Regions from separate parts of the Homo sapiens genome. Here all the other regions are linked to region 3. The links come from fine-mapping of genetic effects on gene expression. A gene starts in region 3. Each other region holds a variant in brackets. All regions are shown on one strand. Distances are from middle to middle.

Region 1 (2,761 bases), 36 kb after region 3:
CAGTCACCCTGGACTCCTGCATTTCCATACGCCTGACAATTCCAGAATGTCATGTCAACTGAATGATATAACGGAACCCTTTGAGATTGGCTTTTCTTGCACATCCTAATTCTCTGGGGACGCATCCAGGGTACAGCTTGGGATCAGTAGTTCCTTCCTTTTTTGCTGCTGTCTCATACTCCATGGTACAGTGTTCCACAGTTTCTTTAATTATTCAGCCATGGGAAGAAACGGGGTGTTTCCAGTTTTGTGACTCTCGTGAGTAACATTCTGGTGCACATTTGTGGACAGTTTGTGTGTGAACATTAGTTTTCATTTCTCTGGCTCAAATTCAACTGCTGGGTCATATGGTACTTAGAAAATTATTACCATTTCCCCAGGCCTTTCCTGGAAAAAAAATATTTAAGATAAATATTCTGTAGAGACAGGCAGCAAAGGTGGACAACATTTTCTCTTTTTTTCATTGTTTCATTTTTAGTTGTAAGTGTATGTTTTTGGTAGGGAAATCAACCCAATGAAAGAGATAAAATACCTCTTTCCTCTCATTTTTCTGTCTCTTGCATCTCCCTTACCGCTCCTGTCTTTTTTGAACGCCTGTAGATTCACCAGACCAGAGCACTTGGGCAGCAGCGCCAAGATCAAGTGCAGCGGTTGCCATAGCTACCAGGAGTCCACAAAGCAGCTCACTATGAAGAAACTGCCCATCGTAGCCTGTTTTCATCTCAAAGTAAGTTTTCCAGAAAGCCAACTCTAATGGCAGACTTAGTTTTTAGTCCACAGTACGGTCCTCAGCCTTTTGGTTTGCTGTGCAGTTACATTTTTTATAATTGCAGCAAGCAGGAAGAACACCGAGGAAGGGAGGGTGTGAGGGAATTGTCCTCCCATCTGTGAATTGTCCTTTTGTCTGTGCTGCGGTAAACAAAATCAGTGGCTTCGCAGTGAAAGTAGAATGTGAGTTTTCTTGGGAGCAGAGTGGTTGTGAAGTTTTTATTACTTCTACCATTCCTCCAGCTACCCCCTCCTCAGGTTTTCTGTTTTATTTTAAGACAAAGGCCCTCAGCATGCAGATCTGGTC[C/T]AGGAGTTGGCAAGCTCTTTCTCTAAAGGCCCAGATAACTGAAGATGTCGAGCTCCACAGGCTGCGTGCGATCATACGATTCTCTGTTACATGTTCTTTGTTTCATTTCACCACCCTTTAAACATGGAAAACGCCCATTCCTAGCTTGCTGGCTGGAATGGGTGACTCCTGATCTAGGCAAAGGACTGTCTTCTGTCTGGTGAAAGGAACAATTTGTTCATTTTTGCTGCCATGGGCCACGGATCTTTGTTTTGTTTTCTGTGCTTTGCTGGGTTTGCTGTAAGATTACTTTTTGTACCCTTGGTGTTACCACTGAACAGTCCCATCATTTGAAGACTTGAACCCTGTAAATGAGGACTTGGGTGGATTGCCACTGTGTTTTTGAATCTGTAATTCTAGATGTAGCTACAAGGCAGTTCAATAAAATACAAAAGAGATAACACAGACACCTGTCATCAGAAGAAGGCCCTGAAGCTTCCAGTGACATTTCTGATCTTCTTTCCTCTTCCCTCTGTCCCCTTCCTATTTCTGCAGCGATTTGAACACTCAGCCAAGCTGCGGCGGAAGATCACCACGTATGTGTCCTTCCCCCTGGAGCTGGACATGACCCCTTTCATGGCCTCCAGGTATGTGGGGTTGTAGGCCCGTTCTGTGTCCTGAGGGGCTGTGATCCTATCAGGACAGGAATCCAGCTCGGAGCTCCTATTAAGATGACTGTTGGCCGGGTGCAGTGGCTCCCGCCTGTAATCCCAGCACTTCAGGAGGTCGAAGCGGGCAGATCATGAGGTCAACAGATTGAGACCATCATGGCCAACATGGTGAAACCCCGTCTCTACTAAAAATACAAAAATTAGCTGGGTGTGGTGGCAGGCACCTGTAGTCCCAGCTATTTGGGAGGCTGAGGCAGGAGAATCGCTTGAACCCAGGAGGTGGAGGTTGCAGTGAGCCAAGATCGCGCCACTGCACTCCAGCCTGGTGACAGAACGAGACTACGTCTAAAAAAAAAAAAAAAAATGACTGTCGATACTAATATAAACCCCACCTTCCCCAAATCTGTTTATCCTGATCTTAAGATACAGCACATGTTAATGAGTTGTTTTTCATCAGATACCCTGTTTTTGTTTTGAATTTCTCAACAATTATCAATCCACTTTCAAACCGGCAAAGTCCTCAAGGTGGGATCACAGCGAGAAGGCAACATTTTAGTTCGTGGAACAGATGTTGAAGTACAGGCAGACATAGTTGGTTTTGCAGTTGTAGATTGCATTTTCCTTTTCAAATCTGCCTATTCTGGGGTACTTGGAATTCAGCTGCTTACTAATGCATGAGACACATAGGAGTTTCCTGTGGTTCTGTGACAAATGACCAAAAACCTGGCGGCTTAAAATTAATTTCCTCACAGTTCTAGAGGTTGGAAATCTGAAATCAAGGTGTTGGCAGGGCTCCATGTCCTACAAGGGTCTTGGGGATTCCATTCCTCACCGCCTCCAGCTGCTGGTGGTTCCACGTGTTCCTTCTGTGGCTGTCACTCCCCTGGCTTCCGGGTCACATGGCCAGCTCCCCTGACTCTGTGTCCAGTTCCCTCTGCTTCTCTGTCATGACCGTGGTCATTGGCTTTAGGACCTAGGCAGATCATCCAGGAGGATCTCATCTCAACATCTTTACTTTGAGTCTCTGCAAAGACTG
Region 2 (2,761 bases), 110 kb before region 3:
GATAAAGGAGCATTGAAGTCTCCAAATACAATAGTGGATTCATCTCTTTCTCCCTGCAGTTCCATCAGTTTTTGCCTCACATATTTTGATGCTCTATTATGTGTATATACATTAAAGATTATTGTCTTATTGGAGGATTGATCTGCGGTCATAATGTAATGCTCTTTAACCCTGATAACTTTCCTTGCTCTGTAGTCTACTCTGTGTAGAAATATAGCTACTCCCACTTTCTTTAATTAGTGTTAGTATGGTGGATCTTTTTTCATCTCTTTATGTTTAATCTATATGTGTCTTTATACTTAAAGTTGGTTTCTGGTAGACAACATATATTTGGGTCTTATTCTTTGATAAACTCTCACAATCTCTGCCTTTTAAATGATGTAACTGACAAAACCACTGACATTTAAAGTGATTATTGACATAGCTGGATTAATAGCTACCATATTCGTTAATTTTTTTTCATTTGTTACCCTTGTTCTTTGCTCCTCTTTTTGTCTTCCACAGTTCTTCTGCCCACTGTGGTTAACTGAGCATTTTATATGATTCTATTTTCTCTCCCTTCATAGCTTATCAACTATGCTTCTTTTTTTAAAAAAACTTTTTTTAGTGGTTGCCCTAGAGTTTACAGTATACATTTCCAATGAATCCAAGTCCACTTTCAAATAACACTATATCACTCCACAGGCATTGCAAGTATCATATAATAACAAAATACTCCTGATTCTTCCCTCTCTTCCCTTACACTGTTGCTGTCATTCATTTCACTTATAACTAAAAATACATAAACACATATTTATGTTCATTTATATACATAATGTATTGGTATATAAAAGCATACATAATAAAATACATTGTTGCTATGATTATTTTGAACAAACTTTTATCTGTTAGGTCAATTAGGAATAAGAAAAATAATGCTTTTCTTTTACCTTCACTTATTCTTTTTCCAATGTTGTTCTTTTATGTAGATCAGAGTTTCTGACTCATATCATTTTCTTTCTCTCCGAAAAACTTTTTACATTTCTTGCAAGGCAGGTCTACCAGCAACAAATTCCTCCAATTTCATTTATTTATTTTTGGTCTGAGAAAGTCTCTATTTCTCCTTTGCTTTTGAAGGATAATTGTGCAGGGTACAGAATTCCAGGTTGGTGGGTTTTTTT[T/C]CCTCTCTCAACGCTTTAAATATTTCACACCATTCTCTTCTCATTTGCATAATTTCTGAGAAGTCAGATGTAATTTTTTTTTTTTTGGAGAGAGAGCTTGGCTCTTGTCTCCCAGGCTGGGATGCAATGTCACGATCTCGGCTCACTGCAGCCTCCACCTCCTGGATTCAAGCAATTCTCCTGCCTCAGCCTCCAGAGTAGCTGGGATTACAGGTGCATGCCACCATACCCAGTTAATTTTTGTATTATTAGTAGAGACAGGGTTTCACCATGTTTGGCCAGGCTGGTCTCAAACTCCTGATCTCAGGTGATCCACCCACCTCAGCCTCCCAAAGTGCTGGGATTTACAGGCATGAGCAACCATGCCCAACCTAGATGTAATTCTTATCTCTCCTCCTCTATAGGTAGCATTTTTCCTCTCTGGTTTTTTTCTAGATCTTTTTCTTTATCTTTGATTTTCTGTAGTTTGACTATGAAATGTCTGTATAGTCTTTTTTCCCTTTATCCTGTGCTATGGTTTGAATGTTTTTGTCCCTTTTAAAATTCATGTTGAAACTGTATCCCCAATCCAATAGTATTAAGAGTTGTGACCTTTTGTAGGTGATTGAGTCATGAGTGCTCTGCCCTCATGAATGGGATTACATGCCCTTCCCCCTTTTTTTCACCCATTCTATCCCGTCTGCCACGTGAGGACACTTAGATGGCACCTTCTATAAGGAACAGGCCCTCACCAGACAGTGAACCTGCCAGTGCTTTGATCTTCTACTTCCTAGCCTCTGGAACTGTAAGACATTTCTGTTTTTTTATAAATTACACAGTCTACAGGACTAAGACATCCTGCTTGGTGTTCTCTGAACTTCCTTGTTCTGCGATTTGGTGTCTGAGATTAATTCTGGGGGAAATTCTCAACGTTATTCCTTAAAATATTGCTTCTATTCCTTTCTCTCTTCTTTCTGGCATTCCAATTATGTGTATGTTACATCTTTTGTAGTTATCTCACATTTCTTGGATATTTTGTTCCTGTTTTTTTCAGTCTTTTTTCTCTTTGCTTTTAAGTTTTGGAAGTTTCTACTGTCATATCCTCAAAGCTCAGAGATTCTCTCCTCTGCCATGTCCCGTCTACTGAGCCCATCAGAGGCATTCTTCATTTCTGTTGTATCACTTTTGATTTCTAGCATTTTGTTTTTCTTCTTAGATTTTTCATCTTTCTATTTACATTACCCATCAGTTCTTGCATGTTGTCTACTTTTCCATTAAAGTCCTTAGCATATTAATCATGATTTTTAAAAATTCTTGGTCTGATAAATCCAGCATTCCTGCCATATCAAACTCTGGTTCTGATGCTTCTTCAGTCTCTTCTGTGTATTTTCCCTTTTAGTATGACTTGTAATTTTTTAATCAAAAGGTGGACAGGATGCACTGGGTAAAAAGAACTGTGGCAAACAGGCCTTTAGTAACGTAGTGGTAAGGTGCTGGAGGAAGGGGAAGTGTTCTACAGTCCTATTAGGTCTCAGTTTTTTGGTGAGCCTGTGAACTATAAATTTCACCAGTGCCTCTCAGTGTTCCCCCTTCAGGTGGGACAGGATGGCTAGAGAGGGCTG
Region 3 (2,761 bases):
ACCTTATCCAAGTTCCCCCAGACCCTTGGCGCCCTGGTTCCCCCAGAACTTCGTTTGCATTCGTCTTTAAATGTCTTCTCAGTTTGCCTTGGGTCAGTTATTTGTATACCGATTAGACCTGTGCCGCCCACTGCGGTAGCAGCTAGTAGGAATTGGATGTGCTTTAAGTGTAAATACCAGATTTCCAAGACTTGCTGCAAAAACTGTAAAACATTCCACTAACGATTTTGCAATACTGCCTACATGCTGAAATAATTTGACTTTATTGGGTTGAGATATATTACTGTAACTTTCTTTTTTCATTAGAAAAATGTAGCCACTAGCAAATGTGAAGTGTCAGGCGTGTGGCGCGCAGATGCCTCTTTAAACTGGATGGCGCCGGGTTGGCCCTCACTATCAGCGGGCTCCCGACAGGAGGCGCCCCAGCTTGCGGCCGGGGGCAGCGCCTACCAGGCAGTTGGCAGGCAGTTCCAGCCCCGGGCCACGGCACTGCAGGGCCCGAGCCAGGTTACGGCAACCGGGGGCCCTGCAAACAGCTCCCGATTAGGGGGTGCTTTTGGGTGGGAAAGCGCAGGCCCTGGATGGAGGCCCGACCTGCGGCGCTCCAGCTCATCGCCCCGCCTCTTTGCGGCAGAGCTCAGGCCGGCGCAAACCGGTTCAGTGCTAGGACTGACGTCTCGCGCCGCCCAACCGCAGCACGCCCCCGCCTCCCCAGTCCTCTGGAAGAGACAGGGAACGTCTAGCCGCCAGGGTCCCGGGAGGCGGCTCTGTACCAGACGGACTATACTGAGAGCCTATGACAATAGCCGAAGGTGCCGGGGGGGGGGGGGGGGTGGCCTACTACCAATAAAGGAAGGGGAGGGGCGGGCCCTCGTTAGCTTCCCCCCCCTACCACGCTTCCTCGGGCGCGGGTCTACCCAGAGCCTAACGGGCGCGCGAGTGTGGGGGAAGGGCCTGGCGCGGGCTGGAGACTGCGCAGTGCGGTGCCGGCCGGGAGGGGGGGGGGGGGTGACGTAATCTCCGTCCGCGGCCGCGGCGCCCCGCCCCGCGACACCCTCCGCGAACCGCGAGAGCGCAGCGCAGGCGGTCCGCAGCAGCCGCAGCTCGGGGGCGGTGCCTGCCTTGCAGCCTCCCCTCGGCGATCGCGCAGCCCCATCTTTGTCCGGCCTCCGCGCTTTGTTCTCGGCGCCCGGGCCTTGGCCAGCCTGGCCAGCCGCCGAGCAGCCCCCACGCCGCGCTGGCGTCGTCCTCGCCTCCCTCGCCGCCGCCCCCCGCGCGCGGCCGGGCCTTGCCCCCCATGGTGTCCCGGCCAGAGCCCGAGGGCGAGGCCATGGACGCCGAGCTGGCGGTAGCGCCGCCGGGCTGCTCGCACCTGGGCAGCTTCAAGGTGGACAACTGGAAGCAGAACCTGCGGGCCATCTACCAGTGCTTCGTGTGGAGCGGCACGGCTGAGGCCCGCAAGCGCAAGGTGCGCCCGGCAGCCCACCGCGCGGCGGGCTCGGGGCCTTCTGCCGCTCCTGAGGCCGGCCGGCGGAGGGGCCCTTTTCCTGCCCTCTTCCCTTCCCCCGTTGCCTTTCCCTGTCCTTCCTCTTCCTCTCTCCTTCTGCCCTCTCTTCTCTTTACCCCTTCCCCCTCCTTTCCTTCCCCCCTCAACTCTCTCCCTTCCCTTATCTCCTCATCTTCCTATCCTTCCCCTCTCCCCCCTTCCCCCATTCTTCCTTTCCCTCCCCCTCCTCTCTGTCCCCTCCCCCTCCTCTCTGTCCCCTCCCCCTCCTTTCTCTCCGCCCTCCCCCTCCCTTATCCTTCTTGGCCCGGGAGGGGCGAGTGCTTCCGGGCCGGGGGTGGTGTTCTCCTGCCCTGCTGCCTGGGGAGCCTGGGACTTCGGTGGGCGGTCCCGGGCGTTCCTGCGCGAGGTCCTTGCGGGGAACTCTCCTGGTTCTGGAGGGTTCGGGGCTGGATGCGGGTGCAGAGAAAGAAATATTTCAAAAAAATGAGTAAAGGATGGGGGGCTGTCGAGTTCTGGGCGTTGGTCTGCAGCGGTCACCCGCCGCCAGGAGCGACCTTGGACGGGAGCTGGGGCAGGAGGCGGGCTGGGGGGCGCGGGGCCGGAGCTTCGCGGCTGCCTCGGGGCCCGCGAGGAGCTGGAGGTGGAGGGCGGCAGGGGCTGGGGCCGGGGCGAGCCTGTGGGTGCGGAGCCACAGCCCGGGTTTGCGTTGCGGCTGAGGAGTAGACTTGGAAGCGCGCCGTGGGCTGTGGGAGGCCTTAACCAGGAGTGAGTCCCCTCGGGGAGCCCAGTCTTGCGTCCCGCAGTTAGGCTTGGTAAGGGTTTGGAAATCAAAACGTAACGTGATTCTTCTATGTGAATAAAGTTTATTTTTACAGTTTCACGCGCTTTTGTAGATTACAATCCGAGATTGGGAGTTGTGAGGGCAGTTTCCACCTTGAGTGGCATTTTTTTATTTATGGGAATACCAACAGGCTCGCTGAGATTGTAGGGTATGTTAAGCAGTAATTCAAAAAAAAAATTATTTTTTTGAGACGAAGTCTCGCTTTGTACCCCAGGCTGGAGTGCAGTGGCGCGATTTCGGCTCACTACAATCTCCGCCTCCCGGGTTCAGCCGATTCTCCTGCCTCAGCCTCCTGAGTAGCTGGGATTACAGGCTCCTGCTACCACGCCCGGCTAATTTTTGTATTTTTAGTAGAGACGGGGTTTCACCATGTTGGCCAGGCTGGTCTGGAACTCCTGATCTCAGGTGATCCA

Direction of the effects. Alleles are on the strand shown, and positions count from the first base shown. SD is a standard deviation of normalised expression in the study named. Not every link is listed here.
For the expression in aorta of the gene that starts at base 1,122 in region 3, T is the low allele of the variant in region 1 and C is the other (small effect, 0.32 SD a copy in GTEx).

The links. PIP is the estimated chance that this variant, and not a neighbour inherited with it, causes the effect. A credible set is the group of variants that fine-mapping cannot tell apart.
Region 1: its variant is the best candidate, but not a certain one, in a credible set for the expression of USP22 in aorta (GTEx, PIP 0.55).
Region 2: its variant is the best candidate, but not a certain one, in a credible set for the expression of USP22 in whole blood (INTERVAL, PIP 0.59).

What each region holds. Positions count from the first base shown.
Region 1 is chr17:21,005,836-21,008,596 of GRCh38, reverse strand. It overlaps USP22 (ubiquitin specific peptidase 22), which reads left to right. Exons shown (of 13, transcript NM_015276.2): 9 at 601-727; 10 at 1,610-1,701. Among named protein-coding and RNA genes, the nearest start is that of USP22, 36 kb to the left of the region's middle. The variant C/T (reference allele first, on the strand shown) is at 1,076.
Region 2 is chr17:21,152,797-21,155,557 of GRCh38, reverse strand. The region is part of intron 1 of DHRS7B (dehydrogenase/reductase 7B); the gene reads right to left. Among named protein-coding and RNA genes, the nearest start is that of DHRS7B, 27 kb to the right of the region's middle. The variant T/C (reference allele first, on the strand shown) is at 1,161.
Region 3 is chr17:21,041,372-21,044,132 of GRCh38, reverse strand. USP22 (ubiquitin specific peptidase 22) reads left to right here and starts at 1,122. Exons shown (of 13, transcript NM_015276.2): 1 at 1,122-1,468. The coding sequence starts at 1,298. RefSeq lists enhancers at 1-351, 352-1,301 and a silencer at 837-1,436.